Regions from separate parts of the Homo sapiens genome. Here region 2 is linked to region 1. The links come from fine-mapping of genetic effects on gene expression. A gene starts in region 1. The other region holds a variant in brackets. All regions are shown on one strand. Distances are between the middles of the regions.

What was found.
Region 2: its variant is fine-mapped to the expression of MACO1 in whole blood (INTERVAL, PIP 0.97).

The regions. Positions count from the first base shown.
Region 1 is chr1:25,428,534-25,433,830 of GRCh38, reverse strand. MACO1 (macoilin 1) reads right to left here and starts at 2,934. Exons shown (of 11, transcript NM_018202.6): 1 at 2,653-2,934. The coding sequence starts at 2,732. It also overlaps a transcript of RHCE not described here. RefSeq lists silencers at 2,419-3,078, 3,469-3,908.
Region 2 is chr1:25,527,606-25,532,975 of GRCh38, reverse strand. No RefSeq gene overlaps it. Among named protein-coding and RNA genes, the nearest start is that of LDLRAP1, 13 kb to the left of the region's middle. The variant T/C (reference allele first, on the strand shown) is at 2,257.

The sequences.
Region 1 (5,297 bases):
ACTACACTAGGATTTATAAAGCATTTCACAAACTGTACATATCTCCTTTAGTCCTCAAAACTCATTTGAAGGTGGGAGAACTGGGGCTCAAAGCTGTGGATGCCCTGTCTGCCTAAAGCAGCAGAGCTGGGATTTTGAGTCTGATCCTGGGTCTCCTGATTCCTGCAGTCCAGTGCGCTTTTCACCACAGCTGCCTCCTTCCTATGCCAAGGCTCAGAAAGTTGTACAGACTGAGAACATGAAAATAGTAAGTCCATGAAAGGTTTGGCTATGAAACAGTAGACAGTGGTTATCAAAACTGTCAACACGGCCCCAGAAAAAAAACAAGGCTCTCTGTTTAATGAATCCAAAATTGGCCACATGTTGTTGAGAAACAAAATGGGCAATAGATGGTGTGAAAAACAACTTAGCATAGACTTAAATTTGATGATCACCAGAAATTTGATATTCATGAATCCTCAAGCATTCTAGTTTATAACCAGTCCACTCATCCTGTTTGCTTTAGAAATAACAGGAAATTTTTCTAAATCTCTTTAAAAACAGAATTGGGCAAAAAAAAAAAAATCTTGTTCTTCAGTCCAATACTCCATAATATAAACCAAGAAACAGATAAGTGAGTTGAAACGCTCATTTGATATATGATACTCCAACCAGGAAAGACAGTTAGAAATACATTTAGGTCTTTTATTAACATTTAACTTAAAGAATGCAAAACAGAGAAGCATAAGAAGATTTAAGGCTAATGCACTGTCGGTTTTTAAAATTTTGCAGATGAACCTCTGAATAACTTGCAAAGAGTATTTACAATTAACCTTTAGGGTAAGAAAATTCAAATTTCAAAAGCCATCAGTAAGATGATAAATCTTCATTAAACGATGAATTCACTTCTTCACATCGATTCACACTGAGTAGCTATTATGGCGCAGGTTGTAAACTGGGTCTATTTGTTCAAGTACAGAGAAATGGAAATACAGCAGAAAACACGTAAACAATATGGGACTCTCAATCTTCTTGCTATAAATGGAGGTACATCATCTTATGTTACTGTAAATAGCAGCTATTCAAATGCCACAGTTGTGCTAAGTCTACCAACTCGGTTTAATATCCCTTTCCTATTTTTATGTTACCATTAATGTTAAGTTGGTCAAATATTTTTCAATAGCCAAAGGGGAAAAACTTTCTTTAATTCAAGAATGTATAGTGTATGTAACGTGAATTGAAGAGACCTTTCCTCCATCTATGTGTAGAAAAAATTGTTTGCTTTCACAGTTCAAGTTAAAATGGTCAAGTTCGATTCATCCAGCATAGATTAGAGTCTGTTTTACTCACTGCTCTATCTTCACTGATTAGAAATGTTCCTGGCACATAGTATATATAACTGATGAATGAATGAATTACTCCTATGCTCTATGGCTCATTTTATAAGAATATACCCAAGAAATTTTTACTTTGATTCCTTAATGCTTTTAAACTTGAAGAAAATCCCCAGTGTTTACATCAGTCAGCTGCTTGTGGAAAGCAATCATTCCACATCTGTAAACAAGAGCATGTGCAAGGTGTACAGTTATGTTAAGACAACTTGGGTGTCATCAGCTACCTCACATATTTCTTGAAATCCCACAGCTAGAGAAGCTAATTGTAAAACACCATGAGGACTCAATTAAGCCTACATCCACATGCTGAGAATTCTTCTTTGTAAACTAATTACTTCTCCACCGAAATCTGTATCAAGGCAAATACCATTTACAAGTAACATTCTGAGAAGAACCAGAAAATAACAGTCGTACACAAATCGACTTGGGGAAGCTATGATAGTAAGTTGCCCCATGAACCTGTTGTCTTTCTCTACCGGTGGACTGAATTCAATTTCTATTTAAAGGGACACTGCTTTTCTTGCGGATGAAAAAAAAAAAAAAGAGTTTGGAGAAAATCCCTTTTTAAAAACGTTCAAAGCAAGCTATCTGCTTGGAATTGTCAAAACAATATTTGCTGAAAAACTGGTCATCAGACCCTTCCGAATCTGGAGCAGGGCCACAGGGCATGATTTGGGGGTATCAGCTTCAGCCCTGGGTGCCAAGTTTGAGATCCCATATGGGAAGCAGAAGGTGAAAGAAGTGACAGCATGGCCCCAGGCCAGTATGCTGGCAGCTTGGGGGAACGAGGGGCCACAGTGGGCTCTCAACTTTGTCAGCCTCCCCCACCCCCCCGCGCTGTGGTCCACGCGCCTCCTGGCTCCGGCCGGCAAGCCCCCAGGCCACCGGGGGGCTCGGGGGCCAGCGGCGGCCAGTCAGAGGTCCCGGAAGCGGCCCTCCCGGCCCAGCGGCATGGCCGGGATGCTGAGGAACGCCGGGCTGGTTGGGGGCTCTCCGCCCCTCCCCCCGGCGGGCCCGGCGCTTCCAACGGCGGCGCGGCGGCTCCCTCAGCCAGCGCCCGCCGCGCCCTGCCCGCCCGGCCGGGCCGACCCTCGCCACGCCCCGCGCACCCGGGGCGGACCCCGGCGGGCGGGCCAGCGGCTCCGGGGCCAGCGCTCCTTAGGAGAGCCCCCGGCGCGGGCGTGCGGCCTACTCGGGGTTACATAACGGGGCCAGGCCCCTCGGAGCTGGAGGGGGACCGCAGGGCCCGCGCCCGCGGAGTGGGGGTGCAGCCGCTCACCTGCCGTAAATGCCCTCGGTGATCCGGTTCCGCTTTAGGGGGCGGCGGAGCTTACTGCAGTCGGCGTTCCGCCGCTTCATCCTCCCGCTGGGGGGCCGGGTGCCCGCGCCGCCGCCGCCGTCTCTCACCTCAGCTGCCGCCGCCGCTGGCCCGCCCCGCGTCGGGCCTGGACTCTACCCCTGAGGCCGGTCACACAGACATGGAGCCAGCACCCGGGGGGAGGGGGTAGCACGGGGAGGGGGGGCTCGGAGCCTCCTCCGCCTTCGGAAACAAAGAAATGACAATTCCGGGGCCCGCCCGCCCAGCACCAGCCAGCCGCCTGCCCCGCCTCCTCGGCTCCGACGGACGGCCCGGGAGGCCAATAGAAGCCACCGGTAAACCGCTGTCGGCCAATCCCAGGGCCCGCTGAGGCAAAACTGACTCTAGAACCCGCCCCTTTGAAGGACGGAAGAATGCGCCAATCATTATAGTGTCTGGGTCCCCGGCTGAGCCTATCAGAAAAGATTTAAATAGAGGCTTATAAATAGGCCCTATAAATATAACATCCTATATTACGCCTTGTTGCGAAGGTATGCTTTATTATTATTGGGTTGCGTTTCATTGTATTGTAATCCCTACTAGAGCATACCGTACGGCATGGCATTGTAGGCTCTCGTCTAGCAATGTATGAAATCGGAAGGCCCGGGTTTGCGGCATGTGCGGTGTCTGCGCTGACGTGCGCTTCAGCCAGTCGCGTCATTATGTAAGGGAGCATCCCAGGAACAGCGCCGGGGACCCTTCTGCGGATGCTGGAGAGCTCGGCCAGGCCGACCGCGTCAGCGCGCACCGGGGGTACGAATGACAAAGCAAACCCCACACGCACACAGACACACACCCTGCCAGCTTCCCGCGACGTGGTGACAGCGCGCCGGCCAATCGGAGGTGGCGGCCCCGCCCCGGGTTACGCCACGGGGCGGAGCCGTGGGGGCGCGCGACGTAGCGCAGAGATGCCCGGGGCGTGTGCGGCGGTGCGGCCCGGGCTCCACGTCCACAGGCTGGGCAGCGCTGTGGGCCCCGCGGGCGCCGAGTCCGCAGGACCCGCGAGGGCACTACCGCGAAGCATCGGCCTCCGGGCCGGGCCGGGCCGGACCGGGAGCCTGCTCGGCGGGTCCGGGCTCCTGCAAGGCGGGGACGCGGGGCCGGCGACCCTTCACGCTTCGTACTCATTGAGCGCCGATTTTATGCCAGGCACCGTGCTGGGTAATTTGCGTGTATTTGCTCATTTACTCCTTATAACTCCCCTGCCACGTACGTATGGCAAAGTAACACTTAGAAAAGTCCGCATGGTGTTTTTTTTTAAGAGAAATAAAAAGAATGTTTATCATTAGAGAAAACTGGGGAAAATGTAGGAAAGTGGCCGAAAAGGAAAAAACACCAATGAGTCTCATCACATTAACACAAATACAGTTGACATTTTATTGTATTTGCTTGTTTTCCAATTTTCCCCTATGGATGATAATGTTACTATTGCTATTAAATAGAATAGTGGTCATACTAGAATAGTAGTCATACTAGAATAGTAGTCATACTGTTTTTAACATAAGCATTTTTACATGTTTTAATGCAGCTTTTATAAATATTTCTGAAAATATTGCAGAATGTCCTATCCAGTAGCTTTATCAGTGTAATCCCTCAACGACAATGGGGCAGTTAGTCTTCCAGTGCATTTTTAAAACTTCCCAGGAAGGGCTGGGCGCGGTGGCTCACGCCTGTAATCCCAGCACTTTGGGAGGCCGAGGCGGGTAGATCACGAGGTCAGGAGATCGGAGACCATCCTGGATAACATGGTGAAACCCCATCTCTACTAAAAATACAAAAAATTAGCTGGGCATGGTGGCGGGCACCTGTAGTCCCAGCTACTCGAGAGGCTGAGGCAGGAGAGCGAGACTTTGTCTCAAAAAAAAAAAAAAAAAAAAAACTTCCCAGGAAGTAGATGCCATTTTGTTTTGTCCTGGGTTTCACAGAACTCTCTCTGGCCTGTAATCACCCCTCCCTTAATCAACATCTACCCCAGGGAGAAACTTTACACCAAATGCGTTGTCCTCAATCATGACTCTGTGTTACTTTCTTCTGCTCACAAACCTTCAAAGATCTCCCAGTGCCTGGAAGAGAAAACCCATTCTGTTTCGAAGGGCATCCAGAGCTGGTCACAGTGGGGACCCACCCTCCTTTTCCAGGCTACGCCAGGCAAGCAAACCGTTTTTCTCACTATCCTTAAATCCACTGCAACCGATCTTTCCCCCTTCCTGCCTCTGCCCCAACACAGTATCTCTGTCAGTGCCGCTTCTGGTGTGTGGTTTCTTAGGCAAGGCTTATCCATCCACTTAGGCAAAAAGCTTCTTGGAGATCAAATCTATACCCTGCAGAGATACAGTTAAGAAAAATGGCCAAAGTACTTGCTTTTTCAGAGTAGGGCTGAAATTCTAGCTTGGCCACTTACTAGCTTGGACAAGTTACTAAATCTCTCACAGTCTGTTTCCACTCAGGTTTGTTTTAAGGCTTGGAGGACAATGAGCCTTCAGAGCCAGACAAGCAGTAGGTAACAGAAAGTAACTGCTGTTAGCAGTATACTTGTTTCTCATGCCTTAATTCTACTTCAGTATATT
Region 2 (5,370 bases), 99 kb before region 1:
TGAATGCTGGGTTCAGTGCATAGCCCCAGGGCACGGAGGAGTCCAGTACACAGTAGGTGCTCAGTAAACATCCTGGGAGTGTGGCATGATGAATGCTCTCCAGCCTGACTTTGGTCCCTCGTCTTTCCACTCCCCAGCAGTCTGGGCTTCAGTCCCTTCCCTTGTCCGTTTCGCCCATTTTGGTTCCGATATCTCACGTCAGAACTTGGTGGTTCCAGCATTCTTTTCCAGACCTGAGTGATTCAGCCTTTCTGCTTCCTGCCAGCCCCAGGACTGTGGGTGTGAATGACAACTGCCCAGCAGGCTGCAAGGCGCTCAGCCTGGACCTCCGGGCTTCCCTCCTTCCTGGGATTCCTTAGGTCACTTCCATCGATTGTCTTTGGCTGCAACTTCTTGAGTTAATCTCTCCATGTTGGAAAGCTTCCCTTGCTGGTTTCCCCATCTGCTTCCAGCTTCAAGTCCTTTTTGGCTTCAAAACCACATGCCTGTGGTTCCAGCTACTGAGGAGGCTGAGGTGGGAGGATCGCTTGAGTCCAGGAGGTGGAGGCTGCAGTGAGCCGAGATCGCACCACTGCACTCCAGCCTGGGCAACAGAGTGAGACCCTGTCTGAAAAAAAAAAATCAAGAAACTTGGGTTCTGCTCTGTGTATTCCATCCAGGGCAAGTCCCTGCCCCTGTCTAATTTCCTCACGGTGTCTACAGGGTCATCACTAGCATATTTGATACCCATGTCAGAACTACTGATAGGTTCCCTCACCAATGGACAAAACACAAACAGGTGTCCCTTCCCCTATGCTGAGACATACAGCATGGAGACAGGCTGTCTTTCAGCCACCCTACCCATTCACTTTATGCCCTTGTGCAGTGCACAACCCACACAGCTGTGTTTAGGCAGCAGTCTTGCCAATCAGCCTCCCTCAGATGTATTTTCCCAAGGCCGTAACTGCTATGAGAATGGGTCTAAGCATCAATGACCCCCAGAAAACCCTTCTTTTTTTTGAGATGGAGTCTTGCTCTTGTCACCCAGGCTGGAGTGCAATGGTGCACTCTCAGCTCACTGCAACCTCCACCTCCCAGGTCCCAGTGATTCTCCTGCCTCAGCCTCCCAAGTAGCTGGGATTACAGGCGCCTGCCACCACGCCTGGCTAATTTTTGTATTTTTAGTAGGGACAGGGTTTCACCTTGCTAGCCAGGCTTGTCTTGAACTCCTGACCTCAAGTGATCTGGCCGCCTTGGCCTCCCAAAGTGCTGGGATTACAGGCATGAGCCACTGTGCCCGGCCAACCCTTCTAACCAGCAGGTTTTCTTTTTCTTGGGTTCTGCAGTAGGGCTGGGACTAGTGTGAGGCCTGGGATACGAAAGTCAAGACTCACATTCAGGGCTCGCTGAGGATGAGAGTGCCTCCGTAAACCTTGCACACAAGGCACCTCGCTGGCCTCACCTTCACCCTGGTCTGTTCTATGGATTCCCAACAGCTATAGGAGGTGGTGGCAGTGTTTTAAAGGAAAGTGCCAGAAAACCACCTCAGACTCACAGAGGGCAGCTTCTTTCAGCAGCTGGGAACCACGGAGGAGGCTGACTCTGCAAGAGGAACCCAGGGCAGGAGACAGTCCAGGGAGTGGGTGCCAGGGGAGGCGCTGTGCCAAGAAGTCAGCCTCGCCTAGAAGGAGGGTGACCTGCCGCCCTTGGGAGGGGAGCGAAGGGAGGGCCGGATAATCAGCCCCCTTGCTTGTGATCGAGGAGTGAAGGGAGGGCTGGGTAATCGGCCCCCTTGCTTGTGATTGAGAGGTTTATAGGAAAAGTTGTGGGGAAGGGGGTCGGGAACAGAGAAGGCCACGGCAGACCCGGGCTCTGCAGGCTGTACTCACACTCTGGGGAGGACACAGGGTCCAGGGGGACAGCCCGAGCAAGGCCCGGCCCTCACTCAGGAGTGGCCTTCTTGGCCCCCAGCACCCTTCCCTCCAGTTGCTTTGGAGACGTGGAGGCTGACCCCCTGATGCTTTGAGATACAAGGCCACCTGTGAGTCAGTTACCATTGTCAACACCCGGAGAATACCAGGACTACTGTCTCACCTCCCAGATCCCAGAAACCCTTTAGGCTGTGTTTCCCAAACCGCTAACATCCAAAATCACTTTCATCTTTGCCTGCACTGATAGCTATATAGTGTGTTTTGGAAAACCCACTCCTCTTTACTTAAATAATTATTTTCAAAGGAAACTATGCAAATAGAAAACAGCTCAGTTGCCATAAACAGA[T/C]GCGGGTGTTGTTCTTTCTGGCTGGATTCTGGTGCCCCCAGGACTGTGAACCCAGAGCCAGTCTCTGTTCAAAGAGGAGGTGAAGAAGGCAGAAAGATAAAGACCCGCAGCCCCGCAGCCCCGCAGAGGCTCTCCCCTCTCACCAGGGATGGAATCACTTTGTCCCTTGTTGTGGAGGCTGTGCCCACATGCCTCATGAATGTGTCTCCTCCTTGTGAAAAATGTTCCCAGGGGAGTCGCAGACAGTGGCTGGAAGAACTACCTTTTGCGGCTGGGGAGGGGAGACCGCTGGCTCTGGGAATGGCTGGGACCTGAGCACTCCCCCAGCCTCAGCCTTGTCCCCCCGTCTCAAGTGAGCAGCGGCTCTCGTGACAGAGGTGTTCAGAGGCGCTTCACATGAGATCGTCTGAACCCTGCAGTCCCGGGATCCAACCTGATCACGGGTGCAGCCTCCACCAGGCACTGCAGGAACGGGAGGCTGGAGGAGGCCCGGGCCCTGCCCTCTGGGTCTAGTTGGGGCTACAGGATGGCGCAGGCCCCTGGAGATGGCATCGCTAAGGGAAGGAACAGGAGGACCCTGAGCGGGTGGGAGGGCGCTGGGGGCTCGAGGGTGGGCTTGGTGCGGCTGGGCGGGGAGGGAGGGCAGTGGAATGAGCCAGGTGTGTGGGGGTGGGCAGAGGGGGTGTTGAGGGTCCCTAGACAGAGCAGAGGGACCAAGCCCCCAGGGTCTCCCACACCAGTGAGAAAAAATAGGACTGACTCCATCAGGGGGCACCAAGGGATTCTGAAGAGGAAAAACTAACCAAGGCGGTGTTTTCAGAAGAATGCCCCGCACCTGCAGTGCAGCGTGCCGTGAGCACGCCCCTCTTCTCAGTTATTCCCTGGGGCAGATGCCGTAGGCGCCTCCATCTACAAATGAAGAAAGGGACCCCCCTGCTGAGGCCCATGGTGGAGCCAGGGTAGGAGTCCTGTGGCAGGAGCATGGGCAGCGCCCCCATCCCACTGCAGACAGGACTGGGCACCCCTTCCTTCTTCTGCTCCAGTGGGTGAGGTGTGCCAGCAGGGGGGCCGGCTCTCCACAGCCCCTCCCTGACCGCCAAGCCACTTCCCCTGCTGGGAAGGGAGAGGAGGGGAGCTGTCTCTGCTGTCCCCTTGCACTGCGTAACACACAGCGCACCACAGCACACACAGTATACACATGACCCACAATACACACAACATGCATGCAACACACACACATGACACATACACACCACACACACAGGCACTATACACACAACGTACAATACACACACAACACATACACACAACATAAACATACACAAAGCACACAAACACACAACACATGCACACACTAAACACAACATACAACACACACAACACATATATACAGGCACAACACATACATACACACAAACGCATATTCTCAACACAACACACACACATACAATACACCACACACAACACACAACACAACACACACATGCACATACTATAGACAAAACCCACAGACTCCCCATCTGGTCCATGCCCAGGAGCTACTCCACGGAGGGAGGCAGCAGGCTGGGAGAGCAGAGGGAGGGGCTGCCCTCCATCCGCTACCCCCCAACCCCCGCTTCAGGCCCCACTTCATCAGAGAAACTTCTCTGTGCCCCCAGGCCAGGGCAGGGCTCCCACACATGGTTCCCTGTGTGTCCACAATGACCAGTCTGGGCGGTGGCGATGGAAAGCTTGATTGTGGGATTGTTGGATGCCTGTCTCCCCCTCAACTGTGAGCTCCATGAAGGAAAGGCCTGTGCCAGTTTTGCTGTCCCCTTAACCTCAGCCTGTGGTATAGGAGCTGGCACACAATGGGTGCCCAATAAATGCACGAACACAGAGCCCTTGGAAGAGGGGAAAGGTTGGGCCTCAGGGAGCTGCGGTCCTGGCTGCCGCAATGGCTCCCAGAGGGCTGGTTCATCTCAGGGTCCAGCCCCATCCCTGACACGGGAACCCCAGTTCTGTGAGCCTGGAGCGGGAGGAGGGGTGTTTGCAAAGGGAAGCCCATGAATTTGGCATGGCTGCGGTTTTGTGGTAACGGCTGTCTCCATGATCAAAACATGGCGTGTAATAAGGATGGCACTGGGACCTTCCCCTCGTGATTTCAGCTTCCCGATCCAACCAGCCCTCTGTCCTTCCACATCCTCATACACCAGGCGGGCCATCTGCCTGGTGCAGGGGTCCCCTGGTGCTTGCCCAGCCCTGTGGGCCTGTCCTCTGGCGTGCCAGCAGCAAGGAGGGCACTGGGTGGCTGGGCTCTTGGTCTACTCTTGCTGTGTGACACTGGCCATCTCTCTCTCTGGCCCTGGCTTTCCTCATCACTGAATGGAAGGGGGTGGATGCTTGGCGGCCAAGGGCTTCCCCGCCGGGCATCTCATGGGGTCTTGGGGGCAGCAGTAGATGGGCCTGGGGAGACCCGAGAGGGGAGGACACCCCTGTCATGGAACGGATGTGAGACCAGTTCCCTGTAGGCTCCAAGCCCAAGCTGCACACGGAGGGCACGGGCACAGCTTTGGGAGTGACGGCAAGAGCGCACGGGCTGGACACCTGATGCTGCCTGCCCGCCAGGGCCTGGGGCTGCAGAGAGGAGCAGAGGTAGCCCGGCTTCGCCCTGCCCTCAAAGGGTTCCAAGGCCGGGGAGACAGACCAGTCCACAAGAAGTGACAACACAAAAACTCTAGTGGGCGGCTGGCAGTGCTTGGGTGGGGGCGAATAACTCTGTAGCGGGGAAGGGAATATTCCCCATCATTTATTTATTATTTCTTTTCTGTGGTTTTAATATTATTGAGATATAATTTACATGACATAATGTTACTATTTTAAAGTGTACCGTTCAGTGGCTTTTCATACATCTACAGTGTGGTGCAACCGTCCCCACTAGCTAATGCCAGGACAGTTCCATCACCCCAAAAGGAAACCCTGTATTTTGCAGCGGTCACTCCCATTCCCTCCTCCCTCCAGCCTCTGGCAACCACTAATCCACTTTTGGTCTCTATGGAGTTACCTATTCTGAACATTTCATATGAATAGAATTCTATTCTACGTGGCCTGTTGTGACTGGCTTTCTACTTGGCA